2 separate regions of the Homo sapiens genome follow, and region 2 is linked to region 1. The links come from fine-mapping of genetic effects on gene expression. Tissue or cell type: testis. Region 1 holds a variant in brackets; the other region holds the start of a gene. All regions are shown on one strand. Distances are from middle to middle.

Region 1 (8,185 bases):
CTAAGCTCAACTTTTAATTAATTTAATCAATATCTTTGCTTTGAGGAATTCCTGAGCTAATTTGGGTGAGATATTGTTATGAGAGTCCAGAAAATCTCTCAAGGAAGAAGTTACGGAGAAGTGGGTCCTGACCACAGCCTTGAAAGATGGTGACTATGTAGACAGTGGGAAAGGAACGTAAGAAACTTTTCGCAGAGAATGCTTTTGACTTCCTGATTCCAGAGGAGTTAGGAGAGCTTCTAAAGACACTTTAGTTTTCAACTGCCCTCCTGATTCATGAGAGTAATGCCAAGTAGTAGTTATATTCCCACACTCTGGATTCAATGCCTGGGATCAAATCATAGAATCATAGATCTACCTAGTTTGTTTCCTATGTTAAAGAGAAAAGGATGAAACATCAGATTTTTTAATCTAAAAAGTGAGAGAGTACCAACTTCCCAGGGTAGTTGAGAGGATTAAGTGAAATAACCAATGTAAATGTCTAATATATTGCAACTGCAGTGAATATTAATTTTTAACTCATTCCTATTAACATTATCATGTTCCCTAATGTTTCCTTCTCAAGTTCTGAGTCTGTGGAGTACTGCTAACTTGCTTGATCTGCCTTCCTCACCCACCTTTTGCCCTAGGTAGAAGAACACATCCCTGATTAAACGTTACATCCTGCGAAGACAGACTGTGAAGGCCAGGCCACAATAGCTGGGGAGACAATGCATTTTTTGTTCAGAGCAGCCACCAACAGTGATGACAAGAGCCATCAATGGGCCAAGGTCAAAGATCAGCAGTCCCTCTGTCACTTCATTCTTCTTCTGGCTCCCAATAGAGTCCATAGGAACTCAATCTCAGTTCTGAAATCTAATCAAAGCTCATCCACTCAGACCCAAGCCAAGGACACCAAAGAACAAATTCATAAGGCAAACAAAGTCTTCACTCAGCCTTCTGCATTTAGTGATTGTGGAAATGTGGTGCAACTGCCAGCTAGATGAGAGACTTTGGAGGAAATGGGTGATTTAAGCCTTGGGAGTGAGGATTAGCAAGAGAGATTGATGAAGATTCTGGACACATTTGGGAAGCACCAGAGTGAGAGCGTGCCATGACTCTCCAGGTGGGCATCTGAGGAAGCTTAAAATGATGAGCCAAATTAAAAATAGGAAATGAGAGCACAGAGGCTGTTTTTGACAAAGTTCCTTACTTCTCTCTGCCTCATGGAAAACAGGAACATCAGCCCTTCCTAGACCCGCCCCCCCCAGGCATGTGTGCGACATTTGTCCTGGATGCAGCTAAAATCCATCCTTTATGATACAGTTTATTCCTTGATGCCATTGTCTGCTAGGAGATTTCCCGGATTCTGAAAGTGTGCAAGCAATACTTTTCAATTACTGCACATACACCCTGACACACCATGTGGCCTTCACCAATTTGCTGCACAATCTATCTTAACAGTAACCACAAAGCATGCTTCTTGATAGTATGGACAAAATCATTTCTCTCTTTTGTTGCTTAGGAATTCTGTTGTAGGCTCAACTTGCTAAACTAGTTGTGCAGATCAACACATGAGAGACAGGAGCCTCTCCACTAAATGAGGGTGGGAATGAAAGTGAGTAATGTCTTTGGGGCCCTTGGAATAGGCCTTTGCTGGTGGAAACCCTGCTCAACAAAGAGAAGAAAGTATCCAGCACAGGGCTAGGCTTGCATCAGCAAAGGGAAACCCAGCAACCACATCAGTGTAAATGATTCTGCTATTCTACCTGGCACCCACTCTTCTTAATGTGGTAACTTAATTTGTCTTGGAGAATAATTATGTTTTGAGTGCTAACTATTGCTAAGCATTATGCTCAACACTTTAAATAAATGACTTCACTTAATCCCTACAATAATCTTACAAAGCTGATACGATCTTGATTTTGCAGGTGAGAGAATTGACATTTGGGCTTAAGAAATTTTGTTAAAAGCTGGAATTCAAACACAGGTCTGTGTGAGTTCAAAACCCATGCCTTCAACCATATCATCATCAACCTTAGTTTCTAGAAATACAAAATCTGCACTCTTTCCTCTGCTGCAGCCTGAGGTAATTTCTTAGCAGCTAAGGCTGTCACAAAGAACCTCTGCAGGACTGTGGCAGTGGATTTGGTCACTTTTTATAGCTCTTGGGATTCATTATGATATATAATTTTCTTATTAAATTTCTATAAACCTATATTGCTTCAAGATAAAGTTGTTTTCCCCTGTTCTGACCCATCTTATGTATCATTGCCAGAGGAGTCTCATAAAGTATAGCTCATCTTGTCACTTCTCTGCTCAGAAACCTCCCAAAGCTCCTGGTTGTCCCTGGGGCCACAGTTACTCTTGGATATGCAAAGCAGGCTGCACCCTGCCTTTCCAGGATGACTTTCTATTCTCTGGTTTTCAACCCTGGGGATTAAACCAGGCTTTGTGAATTTCTAGTGCAACCAGGATTTTAGACTAGAGCTCTGTTCTAAGCACAGTGTGGGTCACTGCAGAATCTCACTTCAAGAAGGGTCCTGTGGTTTCATAAAGATTGGAAAGCACTTCTCTAACTCGACCATATTACAATTCATTCGACAATCCCCTGCCTACACCTCTGCTTAAATTCATCCTTCACGTAAATTGATCTTCCTTACAACACAGTCTTCTGATATCTCATCCATCCTTCAAGGCCTGGTTGGAACGCTACTGTCTCCATGAAGCCTTCCTCAGTAACCCAGACAGAAATCCTTTCCCTCTGCTTTATGTACTTCCACAGCTCTTTTCTTAATATTACTCCTGTAGGACTTGCCACACTAAACCTTGTAGCATGGATATTTGTGCCCATCTCATCTCATCTGACCCACTTGACTTCAGTGTCGTGTCCTGGGGTTGAGCAGGCAGAGATCATATGTCTTCATTATGTCTGTGTGTTACCCTAGCATCTAACACTATGTCTTGATCATGCCAGGAATTTAATAAATATGCATTGATATAAACTGAATTAATATTGATTATTGGGCATCATTTCAAAAAATGGCTTTGGTAAGTTGTCTGCTTGGTGAACACCATCTTTTGTTCTTTGAAGCCAAGTGCTATGGGGACAAAAAAAATAAAGCAAAATGTTTCCACCCTTATAAGACTTTCTTGTTCATAGTGATAAGGCCGTAACTGTTGCTTTCATTTTCTTCCTTCAGCTCAAGACATCCTCGTCCAGGCATGAAATTGGTGCCTTGGTGTTTTTGTTTTCATTTTCACAAATATTCTTCAGGATATTTCCTTCTCCAACTAGAAGGTCTGTTGAGGGCCAGGCAGGGCAATCGCTGGGATATAGACCGAAATCACTCATGGTTTGAGTTTTGTCTCCCTCCAAGTTTCCAAACACCTTAAGCATGTAGGGGACAAGGGAGAGCTTTCCCCTTGGCCTTCTGAAGGTTTGCTGAAAAATCAACTCACAAAAAGCAGATTAATTGGAGAAAATACATAAACATTTATTAAATGTGCATACACAGGAGCATTCAGAATGAAGACCGACAGATACAGGAGAACAGTGTCCATTTTTATGCTTAGGTTAACAAAGTATGAACAGCTGTGTAGAAATATGATTAGACAAAAAGGATATGACCTAATGCTAGTGGACTAAGTGGGGTTACCCAGTGAGGCTGGTCTGTCTAGGTCCTTCTTGGCTTCTTTGTGCAGCTTTCCTTCCTTCTGGGTGTGGGGCAGGCCCTTCTCAAGAATGGGGAGTCTTATGAACTACAGTCAAACAAGGTAGGTCAGATAATTTATTTTAGGGCAGTTTTTACTTTGAAAGGCAGAGGGAAAATTAGAGCAATACTTTTAGGTTTTATGAAGGGCTTGTGGGCAAAGAGGTTCTAGTTTCTATGTCCCACCTTGGGGAAAAGGGATTTGTAGTTTCTTTGGCTAAAGCTAGCCTCAGGGGAGAATGGGACTGAGAGACAAGAGGGAAGGAGAAGGTCAAAAAAACACTTGCTTCTGAGGCCTTCATTTCGGGATATTGTTTTCCGAGCCCCAACAAGCACAAGAACAGTGGCTTCCATTTTTCTTGTATCCTCTCTAGCATCTCTCTGTCTATATGGGCACACAATGTGAGTCCTGAAATAGTACAGCAGCGACTCCCCACTCTGAATTCCACTGTGCTATGTCTCTTCCCTCTGACTCTCATCACTTTCTACCTTTTAAAGTTATGTGTATGTGCATGTTTCACTTTTCCCTCTACACTGCAGATTATCTGAAGTAGAATTTATGCATTCACAAAACCTACTACTTAGCAATCAATGTCTGTTGGACAGATGAATAACTAAATAAATAGAGGGAAGCACCTAATCTTGGGAATAATAGAGAGAAAAAGTTATTCCAAAAAGGAAAAGGAGGCGGATGATTATCAGTGGCTCCTGATTTCAATACAAAAACCTAGCATATTCTTGGGGCACATGTATACTTATTTGCAGCAACAATATCAGGGTCTAATGGACAGAACCAAAAGATATATGAGAGAATCTATGGAATATTCATTTTGGCTGTCTTTGACTACAAAAGGCTTCTAAGAAAAGCCATTCTGATAAATAATAATGATAATAATATCTAATGTTTATTGACCTCTTGCTATGGGCCAGCCACTATGCTAAGAGCTTATGCATGTTATTTCATTTAATCTTCCCAATAACCCCATAAGATAAATGCTATTTTTACCCTTTTAAAATTATAGCTTCATAAGAGGTTAAATAAAGTACTCAAGGTCTCAAGACAGGAAGTGGTAGAGCTGGGATGCCAATCCAGTTGATACAATGTCAGAGACTAAACTCGTGACCTCTGCTACAAATTCTCATTTATAAAATTTCCTTGCCAGAAGCTGCTAGAAGCTCCAGTCCTGTTTGCAAGGTTGTCTTTGACAAAAATTAAGAAAAACTTTGTTGCATAATGTACACTGTTTCTTGTACATCCATCCAAGGGTATCTAATTAAAGAAAAATGATAAGACATTTTGATACATTATAATGCACTGGG[G/C]AACATCCCTGGTGAGGATAAAATACCAAATATTTTCTGTACAGTTTGGTTCTCATGTTTACTGGTGGTCAATAAATGTTAATTTAATTGAATACTTCTGATTTGGCTTGCACAGCCCAAAGTTATTTCTGGGTGGCGGTTTTTGGATGCTATTTGCTCTGGTGGTGACTTAAAGCAGAAGGCCAGAACCATCATAAAAATAGAGGCTGGAATCTGAGAATATAAGGAAGGGAATAACTTTGAATTTTATGTTATGGAGAATCCCTTGCAAACATTTTAAGACTTTTAATTTAGAGGTCAATATATGCACTTTCTTCGGAAGTCATTTTTGTTTAATCAGCAAATACCTTTTTAGTGCTAGGAACTGCTATGCATCCCCCTGAGGAAATAGTGGTGAGCAGGGCAGCCAGGTTCTCTACCCTCAATGAGCTTTCAGTCTAGAGGGGGAGACAGGTCTTAAACAGGTAGTTACGGTCCTGTGTAATTGAGGCAATAACAGCAGAAACATAGGATGTTATAGGAGCACATCGCAGGGGGTAACTTACCCAGGCCTAGAAAGTCAAGAAAAACTTTCTAAAGATCTAGGATCTTAGAGTAAAATGTTGAAAGAACGGAACATTTTTAAACAAAGATGGTAAATATTATTTCATAAAGCATGTAGCTATTAAAGCTATTTTTATTAAGTTCGAAAGATGGCAGGAGGTCTTCAAATGTACTCTTGGCCAAATTGCTAGTTATCTAAACAGAACAAGGGCCACAGCTGAGAGGTTGTGTTAAAGAAAAAATTATTCATGATGCTTGTTAAAGGGCAGTGAGACTGACTTTATTCAGGACCATTGCAATAGGAGTAGGACAACTGAGATGGGGTTTTGCAGTGCAGGAGAGAGGTGACTGTACCTGTAGGGGTGAAAGGAGCTTTTTCCTTTTTCCCTCTGAAGGTTTGGTAATTTGAGTCTATGAAATAAACTGACAGTAAACAGATTAACAGGAGAAAAGGAATACAAATGTATTATGTGCACATGTGCATGGGAGCCATACAAAATATGATACTCAAAGAAGGGCCAGATGGTTGAAGCTTAAATAGCAGTTTGAGCTATAGAAAGAGGCTCCTGGAGGGTAGTGGTGCCAAGCTACAGGAGGGTGAGGGGAGAAACTGCATTGCAAACAAAGGTTGTCTTATTATGCAGATAAAGCCTTCTGAGGGTTACTACCCTCAGAAGAATAGGTGAAAAGTCTATCTGGCAGTGTATCCTGGTCCTGGAGGCCTTTAGTCTCCTCTCCTGCATAGGAATTAATCTTCTCTGGTTAATGTAGTTTCCAGGGAAAGAGTTTACAAAAATTGCATGCCCTTCTGGACGGAATTCTCTTAATCAGATGAGGAAAAACTCAGAGAAAACCCCTTCTTGCACTTCAGGAGAGAAACAGGACTGAGGGGAGAGGGAGATCAGAGAGACTTTGTTTCTGATGCTGCTTCTTTAGATCAAAGTCCCCAGCATGTCAAAGCACCATACTCTGGGGTATTTTTTTCTGAGCCCAGTAGCCTCAACTCTGAGTACAACAAGGAAAAGTGGAAATTTATAGTCAAGAAGCAGAGTTGTGGGGGGTAGAGAGGCTCAGTGTGAAAACTGGTAAGAGGAAACATTAGGGATAAGAGGGCGATAGCAGCTAAAGCAACCTAATGGGGTTCTTGCTGAAGGCAGGCCAGGGTGACATCACCTGAGGGATGGTGGAGCATGAAGAACCTGATTAGATATTAAAGGTGATCAAAGATGGAGGATAGCTGAACTGACTTAGCAGTGTTCTTTTTTTTTTTTTTTTGAGACAGAGCCTCGCTCTGTCACCCAGGCTGGAGTGCAGTGGCGTGACCTTGGCTCACTGCAAGCTCTGCCTCCCGGGTTCACGCCATTATCCTGCCTCAGCCTCCCGAGTAGCTGGGACTACAGGTGCCCGCCATTGAGCCTGGCTAATTTTTTTGTATTTTTAGTAGAGACGGGGTTTTACCGTGTTAGCCAGGATGGTCTCGATCTCCTGACCTTGTGATCCGCCCTCCTCGGCGTCCCAAAGTGCTGGGATTACAGGCGTGAGCCACCGTGCTCGGCCAGCAGTGTTCTTGCTAGAGCTAGACAATGCCAAGATGAACACAGAAGTCCAAAAGTAGAGGACTAGTTGAAAAAAAGAGTTCAGAAGAGCCTGAGTAGAGTTTGGTCAAGGAGAAACCTATGTCATTTAACAGGCACAGCTCTGCTCCCACTGGAGGAGGGATTCTTCTGGAAGCCTTCCTTTCCTCATCCAAACTGCTTCCATTTCCTTAGCCCAGAAATGCTGAATGCTGGAAGAGGGCTGCCATGGTTTGAATGTTTGTCTCCTTCAAAACTCATGTTGACATTTTAATTGTTATCATAACAGTACTGGGGGCTGAGGGCCATGAGGGCTCCACCTCCATGGTGGGATTGGTACTGTTAGGAAGGGTGCCTTTAGCCTCCTCTTGCTCCGTCTCTCACCCTCTCGCCTTCTGCCATGTGATGATGCGGCCAGAAGACACTTGTTAGGTGCCATCACCTTGATACTCAACTTTTCAGCTTCCAGAACTGTGAGCCAATAAATTTCTGTTCATTATAAATTACCCAGTCTGTGGTATTCTGTGATAGTAGCACAAAACAGACTAAAACAAGGTCTTTATTGTGATTCTAAATCTGGCCTAAATGATATCACGTAGTCTGTTAATTTTTTATATAGATGCCCTTTGTGTCACATTTTCTGCTGGCTTATGTGTCTTTTAATCACACCTCACAGCAACAGGAGCTACTTGACAGGGTGCCACGGTACCAACTTTTTCATCCTTGGATGCAATTTCAGAACGGTATTCCATCAAAAGGAGCAGCAGGATTCTATTAGAACATCTCTTATCTAATACAGAAACACAGTTCTGTCACCACCAAATTTTCCAGTTCACAAATGCTAAGAGTTTCAATACTATTACAACCACATAGTTCAACGGGATTTAAAACCTATTTTTAAAACAGTAGACTGGATTCATCTTTAATACATAGACCGAGTTTTCCATGTGTTCATATGCCACCTAGTGGGCTATATTACATACAAAATGTAAAACTGATCTTTTGAATTATAATCTAGCATTTTCTTCCTAAAATTTGAGGTCCAAGTGACAAATC
Region 2 (8,185 bases), 260 kb before region 1:
CAAGGGACAATAGACAAAACCACTTCCTATAACCTGAGAAATTTGGAGAGAGCTTGAAACAAGACAGAAGGATACACTGCTTACAACTATCAAGAAGATGTATATTTAGGCAGTAAAACCTTCCAAATGATCAGATTTTCGTGCATCTCACCCTCTTCACACTTACTTTAACTTTTTACACACAATATTTAAAGACAGCACTATTCTTTTCATAAATTTTCATTTTATACTTCAACACACTTTCCACAAAACAAAGGAACCCAGGACGAAATATCAAGAAGCCGAAAGAAAAATCTAAAAGGGACTGACACTGCCAAACATTCATGCTGGTGCTAGTTTGATTTTTCTCTTTAAAAAGAAAATCATGTGAGTACATTTTGCATTTCCTAGACAGCAATCACTTCTGTCCTTTAAGCTGTACAACTAGCAATATTCTTTTCCAGGAATCTAGTTGGAAAACCTTTTAAAGTCGGCTGGCAATGAAGGGATTAAAAGCTGAGGAATTAAATAACTGTCTCCACCTCCTAGACACCAGAAGTCCAATTTACCAAAACTTTCAAAGCAACAACTCATGACCTCTCTACCCCTGCACTGCCCAGCACAGCCTATGAGAAAAGAGCCCGCGGTTTTCTCGTTTCAACAAGGATGCTCATTTTAATCACTTGCCCCAAGATCTCCAGACCGAGCCTGGCGGGACTTTGGAACTTGCCTGCTCCAAATCCGCCAAATTTCGCTCTCTCCTCCCTCTGCCGCGCAGATCCAGTGCGTTCTTAATTCACGCCCCTACTCTTTTATGCCCACTTCCAGTTACTCATCCCTGTATCTGGGAGCGATGCCCACACGCCTTCCCGGCGGGCTTCTCCGCCAGGGTTTTTTTGGGGGAGGCTGACATAAAGTTCCACGTGCTTCTGTCCACCGAGCGCCCTCCCTCCCACCGCACTTACACCTGAACTTGTCTCCAGCACTGCGGACACCCGGGTGACACATTCTTTCGGAGAGGGAGGGCAAGACTTTTCTCCGGAGCCTCTGGCAACTCGTGGAGTCTATATAAGGTGGGGCGGTGGGGGGCGCGGAATTCTCTACTTTGGATTGGTTTGTTTGTTTTAAATCTAGGGTGGTGGGCAGTTGCGCGAGGCGGGGTGGGGGGTGCTTTATGAACTACACACACACACACACACACACACACACACACACACCACATACACTCGCCCTGCCCTTCTAGGCTCACGGCTGGCTCTTCCCGGCTACAACTTCCCCTTCCTTCCTGAAACACCAGCGCCTTACTCGCTCAGTCCCCCGTTGCCACCTCCGTCACCTCCTCGGCCGCCGCTCCTGCTGGCACTGCTGGCGCTAGCGCTGGCGGCCCCGGGCTCCGCTGGACGCCTATCTTTTTTCTCTCCCTCTTCCCTAGCTCTGGATTGATTGATGACCACCGGCGGCCAATGGCTCTGACACCACGCCATCCTCGGTCGGGCATCACAGCCCCACGTCCCCGACCTCAGCCTCCCGGGCGCGTTGGCATCCCCGAACCCACAGCGCTGAGCCCGAGCCCGGGGCCGCCGCCTCCTCCCTGCTCTACGCCTGGGCGCTGCCAGGTTCCTTCCCTGGAACGGCGGAGAAAGGAAGGGAGGGAGCCAGCGAGCGTTGGAAGGGGGTGTGGAGGCCACGGGATCTCCCCCTCTTCTGACATCTTTTTTCACTTAAACTTTTGTTTGTCCCACCCCCCCGACCTGTTTGTGTTTGTTTGCAGCATCTCAAATCAATTATACATTTTTCATGACCCGCATTTGCACTTAATTTGGGGTGTGTGTGTGAGAGGGGGGTGGTGATGTACTATTATAAATCAACTTCACTGGGGCATCCTTAATTTATTTTCTTGCTGACGGATTCCAACCGGCTCCTGAGCCTCTAGAAAAATGCCCCCTTCACCTCCTAGGCCGCAAAACCCCGGAATTCAAAGGCTTTACAAAGATAACCTTGTTATACGTAAATAGCAAAGAAACTCCTGCCTCTGTAGAGAAGAAATCCGGCGGCAACGGTTACTTTTCCTCGGTACTCGTCCCCCGTCGCCTAGCCTCGACCCCAGCTTGGGTCGCCGGGTCGCTCCGCAGGCTGCGAGCGCGGAGACCCAGGCAGCGGCGGAGAGTGAGGTTGGGGCGCGGGGACGGGGTGAGAAAGAGCCCCGAGCGAGAGCGGCGCGCGCGGGCGGCCCCGGGGGCGGCCGCGGGGCGCAGCCGGAGCACAAAGCTGCGCGGTGCCTTCCCCTCGTCACTGCACCTGGCCTCGGGCCGCCGCGGGAGCCCGGGGATCGGGCCAACACAATGCACCCAGGCCTAGGCCGGGGCGGCTCGAACACATCACCCCGGGACTTTCTAGTAAACAGCTCGCTGAGCCCTCGTCCCCACCCCCATCCCCGCCGCCCGGCTTCCCCAGCTTCTCGCCGATACCCCCTCCTCTCCTCCTAAGAAATCCTGGCGGAGGAGGGAGCGAAGAGGTGGGGACCCCCAGAGGTCGGGGGACTGATGGCTGGAGGGGGTGGAGAAGAGAAGAGGCGCAGGATGGGGAGTCGGAGGGAAGACACCTCCTAAAAAAGAATTTGCTTTCGCTCAGGGGTTGAAAATCAGCCCTCCCCGAGCGCCGAATTGCCCGGGAGGCGCCCGCTCGTGCGGATGTCAGGGGCACCGGGGCAGCCCGGGTCCGCAGCCTCCGAGCCCCTCGCACGCGCCTCTGACAAGGCACCTCTCACCCGGGCTCCGCTTTGTGTGTGCATTTTTTTCCCTTCCTCTAGTGCTCGGCACCGGGCTCCCGGCCGCCTCCTCCCCCTCCCCCGCCCTCCGCCTCCCTTCCCGGGGCGGATTACCTTTCCCGGGCTGCGCTCCGGATCCCGGGGATGCCTTCAGCGCCCGGCGAGCAGGCGATCCATAGCCGAGCGGCCCGAGCCGGCTGGAGGAGCGCTGGGGGCGCGCGGGGGCGGCGAGGGGCGCGAGCGGGCCAGAACCTTCGACCCCGGAGGTCCCGCCGCAGGCTGGGGCTGGGGGCCAGGGGGCGCGGCGCTAGAGGGAGGCGGGGGGAGAAAGGACCCGAGCAGCCTCGATCTGGGGAGAGAGCGAGCGAGGGGGCGAGGAGAGGGAGCGAGGGCGCGGCGAGCCGGAGGGAGAGCGAGCGGTGCAGTGACAGGGACTGCCACTGGGGTCAAAGGAGCACAGCTCCAGGAAGCAGGGCGGCCGAGGCGCCGCTCCGTGCGCGCTCCCCGGCGGGACCCCGCGCCCCTGCACGCCCCTCCCGCAGTCCCTGCCCACTCGGACCCCCACCGGTGCCCCGAAGCCCCAGGGTTTCGAGAGGAGGAGGGAGCCGAGGGCGAGGCCCGGTAGCCTGCTGGTGCTCCCGGGTCAAGCAGGCGGCAGGAAGCTGAGCTGCAAGTTCATCATCATGAGTGCGATCTGCGTAAAAAATGATAGGGGAAGGAAGGCGGGCTACGGTGCCCCAGGAAAAGAAGGGAGCTTTCTCCCAAATGGTGTTCTTCTGCAAAGAGAACACCCAGCTCCCCGCCACCCACCGACCTGCCAGGCTCTGTCAGGAGTCCTGGCACCGTTCCAGGACGCAGGGCTCACCGCAGGGGTAAGGGGAGCGGCTGGGACACTTCGCTCAGACCTAGGAAGGCGACCCTAGGTTCCCTCCCATCTGCTGATCTGAGGCTTTCCTGGGGGAGAGCTGTGCTCCTTTTTCCCCAAGCCTTTCAACACGACAGACACACACACACACACACACGCTCACTCACTCACTCACACACTCACCTCTTTCTCTCTGCAATGTTGCTGAGAAAGAAAAGGCCAACCCAGCTGATCATTTTTTTTACCTCCATGAATTAAGGCAGATTCAGGACAGGAAGGTGAGGAGAGGCAAAGACTCTAATTGTTTCCATTTTCGTCTTTTGGATAAAATTTTCCCCAAAAGATAAGCATGTCAAAAGCATTTTAAAAATCAAACTTAGTCCAGTTTTGTCTGCTACTTTGGAAAATGGAAGAAAAGGTTTTCAGAATTTTGTACAAACAACACAAGGAAAGGAAATGCCGCTGAAATGCTGGAAGACAGAAAACAAGGGAGAGAAGGCTTTTAGAAAACTTGGTTGGCAGGGTTGTCTGTGAAAGATGAGGTGGCCCTGTGATGTTATGCCATTGTCATTGCTGAAAGATTGGGACAGCAACCAGATCTAATTCCTTTCTAGGAGTCAGACTGAAAGATCTGTGCATTCTCTGAAGGGAAATCCAATGTATATATATGTGTGTGAGAGAGAAGTGTGCTAAGTATACTATGTGACAACTGACTAGACATCCTGGCTGAAATTATACCCCCTAAAAATAAAAAGGAGCCATTGCAACCTGGTCTGTGGCCTCTGTGCTGAGACTAATTGGTTTCCAGGGTCTGGGGAGGAAGGGAGAGAGGCTTGTAGGAGCCCCTATAAAAAAAGATCAAACGGAATTCACTTGAAAATATTTCCCTTTTACAATGGGCTTTCCTGGCACTTGAATTTTAAGTAACCCATCTCTTATGCCTAGGCTGAAATGAAAAGGGAAATGGTCTTACTAATGTATTTATTTTATTTTACAGCATGCCCAGAGTGTCAGTGCTTGTCAAATGTGCTGGGGTGGAAAGGACAGTGTCTTTCCTTGCCCAGCACAAATCAGAACAAGTGACATTGACATTAAAGGATGCCAAAGATGGGGGCATAGAGGCACCTTTAAATTTTGTTTTCTTTTGTTTTCTAGCCCATCAGCGAACACTGACTAGAATCACGTTTTTGAAGAAATGCTTGGTTTTGTTTCCTTTACTCTGTGACTGAGTACTACATTCCTCATATCTTAATAGTTTGAATTTTTAGACTGATTTGGGCTGATTTAATCAGTTCAAAAAAAAAAAAGCATCACCAGCCAAATAATTTCTGTGGTTTCCTTCTTTAAAAAAAATTGCAGTCAAACAAAACAGACAAACTAGTTTGAACATGATTCTGAATCTAAATATGTGCACCCAGACAGTAAATAATAATGCTTTCTACTTTAGTGGTACATTTTACAGGATACTTAATGCCATAAAAAATCAAGTGGGTTATCCATTACAAAGTTGATGGAAATTTGTATACCATTTTACTGAGTGGGGAAAATTGAGGTAAAAAGGCTTAAAATTGTAATTTGTAGTGCTGGAAGAAGTCAACCTGCTGATAGATCAATTATCCAATAGTGACCAAGTTATATTTGGATTATGAAATTTTATTTTCATTAGGCTACTAGCAAGCTGGAGATATGAAAATGAATTTAAATAATAAACCAGGAACAAAAAGACACTCACTTTTCAAATAATTCTCTTTACGTGGATTTGAACATATTGCATTTTGTTAAATCATATTGTCTACAAATACAGCTACCTACACTAAAAGCTTAATTTAAAATTATTGGATGTGAACCATGTCTATCCCATCTCCCATATAAGCTTTGAAATGTTACCTCATTATATCAAATTTTAAATCCTATAAGCTTCAGCTTTTTTTTAAAGATAAGTGAGTCTATAAGTTCCATTTTCGTTGTTGTTGTTAAATTCAACTTTTATTGTGTATAATGGAAAAGAAAAGAAGGATGAAAATCAAATACTAAGTTTATGATTGGCTTCAAGGAAATATTACAATTTTTTTCTTTTAATGGAATTCAAAGCTGGACCCTTTCCCCAGTGATTTCATTGAAGGAACTGGTAAATATGCTTCCTGATAGCCCACTGCAATACCTTTTAAATTATCTTTTCAGAATGCATTTAGGAAAGAAAATGAGAAAGAGGAGCGTGGGAGAACTTTGGGTGGAAGCTTGGAAAGAAAATGATGCTTCCCTTGAAAGCTCAATACTTTATTTGGAGTTGGCTTTCATCTTCCCTATGAGAACAGGTTTTCCTGTACTTCAGAGATGTGTATGACTTAAAACTTGGTTCAATACTGTGGTTCTTCTTCTAAAAAGCAATCCATTGAAATTACTGCATGTTATTGAATAATTTCATTGAAATGATATGTACCAGTCTAACTGCAGGAACAAACAGCAACTATTTTATTTCTTTTTTTCTGTAAGTTGTAAGCATTTCTATCATTTTACAGCAAAGGCTAAGATGTATATTATCAGAAATCAGAGCCTCTTAATAGAACTACCACTATGATGTAATTAGAAAATAAAACTCAACAAACTATTTTATTTTTCTGAATTCTCACAGTTCTTATGTTCATTCAAATGTTTTTATTATGACCCCTCCAAGTTGAATAACAATGTCCTATATTTCTTTGAGTTCTTTATCTTTATGTTGGAAATAGTTGTTAAATGACTGTGTGGGTCAATAAATGAGAAAGTAAAGAAGAGAACACACCAGTGAATGAGGCAAATACAGAATTAAGAAAAATCCACACCAGATCTGTGGGAGAGGAAGTGATGTCATGAGGCAGTGTTGTAGGATAAGAGCTAAGGACTTCCCAAGGAGTTAAAATAGCACATTTTAAAGGTCTTGCTAATGCCTTTAGAAATATGGAATAATCCTAAGACTGTTTTACAAATTAATTTTCTTATAGAGAGACAAGCTTGTTATGTATCATGTCCATTTAAAGGCAGCCCTCTTTTTAAATACAGCAGGATGCCACAATAAAAAGAATTCCAAGTAAAACTTGTTCCTTAAAATGTACAGAAATGTATCAAGCCATTCTCAAAAGAAACTTATATAATTAATCTAATTCCTTGATTGATCCTTTTTGAAATCCTCAAAATAAATATATGATTTTTTTTCAAGGGTGGTACTTTGTATTGAAAATTTTCTTTGGTTAACCAGTAAAAATGTTTATGGGTCAAAAAAAAAAAAAGAATCAGGAAACACTAGAACTGATCAAATTTCATTTCATAAAATAAATGTCATGCTCATTATCATCTTAGAAAGGCTAAATTTAATTCAGTTTTGCCTGCAGCTTAAGTAGCAAGCATTGGGGAAGAATCTTAAAATTTAGCAAAACACTCACAAATTCTTAACATACTTACTAGCCAATATCTAGCATGTATCAAGAAATCAGATGAAAATTATTTATGCAATAATTAATTTTAAAAGTCTGAACATGATACTGAGTCTGGATTCATGTGTTCTTAGTGTTAGTAACCATTCTAACAGACATCCATAATCTCTGTGTTGACCTAAAGGGAATAGGCTATGGCACAAAATATAATTTAAAGAGTTTACTTGAGCCAAAGTGTGAGGACAACTGCCTGGAAGATTCACACCCAGGTAACATTGGATATGAGCTTCCTTTGGCCTTTGTTACAAGCAAATTTTTAAAGCCAAATATGGGGGACAGGGAGTAGGCTGACACAAAGTTCTCTGTAAAGAATTCTCATTGGTTTACAGAAAAGCATTGATTAGTGGTTGGCTAGACATTGTTAAGCTATAGGCTGTGAGTTATAGTTTCCAGTGCAGCATTATTAGTTAATTTATAGCTGCTAGGGACAATAACAAGCTATTTCAAGAGATGAATACATAGCTCAAAAGCTGGGGGTTAGGATGGACTTGCTGTCTCATTTTAATGTCTTTCTAGGCCTGATAATTTAAAAGGACTCACATTCCTCAATAAAAGTTCTTTTCTCATTTTAAATCAATTAATGCTTGCTGAGTCTTTCCCCATGTCATGGTCCCAATTTTGGGAAAATGGTAAAATTTTGTCGTACTTGGGATAGGCTTGTCATGGTGGAAAAGAGCTTTCTCATTGAAGTAAACTCAAAATAATCTCTCTTGAAAGATGAGCAGTATAGAAACCCCATTAAAACCTGGTAAAGAAAAGGTATGTGAGCATTTCCAAGTTTAATAATTCAATTTGGCAATCTAGCATAAGATATCTGTATTTCAAGAAAGCAATATATAATGTAACTTTCTTTCTCAGCAAAAATAAATCAATGAATGGATACAATTTTTTAAAACTGAGTTTGAGAGACCAGCAGAATATAAAACCTTTTTCTCACTATATTATTAATGTAATGGCTTGATTCAGTATTCAACAAATATTTTTAAGCTCTGCTCTGTGTGGGGCATAGTTCTTAAACCATGCTTATGGTCTAATGATGTAAAAAAAGCAGAGTTCTTTCCACATTATTAAGTATACAATCTCAGGGGGATGGGAGACAGTGAC

Direction of the effects. Positions count from the first base shown, and alleles are read on the strand shown. Sizes are in standard deviations (SD) of each study's normalised expression.
For the expression in testis of the gene that starts at base 3,172 in region 2, allele C in region 1 goes with a lower level than allele G (moderate effect, 0.53 SD a copy in GTEx).

The links. PIP is the estimated chance that this variant, and not a neighbour inherited with it, causes the effect.
Region 2: MPPED2 starts here. The variant in region 1 is fine-mapped to the expression of MPPED2 in testis (GTEx, PIP above 0.99).

What each region holds. Positions count from the first base shown.
Region 1 is chr11:30,847,499-30,855,683 of GRCh38, forward strand. All of the region lies in intron 3 of LOC107984419 (a long non-coding RNA gene), which reads right to left. Among named protein-coding and RNA genes, the nearest start is that of LINC02859, 120 kb to the left of the region's middle. The variant G/C (reference allele first, on the strand shown) is at 5,013.
Region 2 is chr11:30,583,182-30,591,366 of GRCh38, forward strand. MPPED2 (metallophosphoesterase domain containing 2) reads right to left here and starts at 3,172. Exons shown (of 7, transcript NM_001584.3): 1 at 2,861-3,172. MPPED2-AS1 (MPPED2 antisense RNA 1) reads left to right here and starts at 969. Exons shown (of 5, transcript NR_183760.1): 1 at 969-1,052. RefSeq lists a silencer at 3,077-3,126.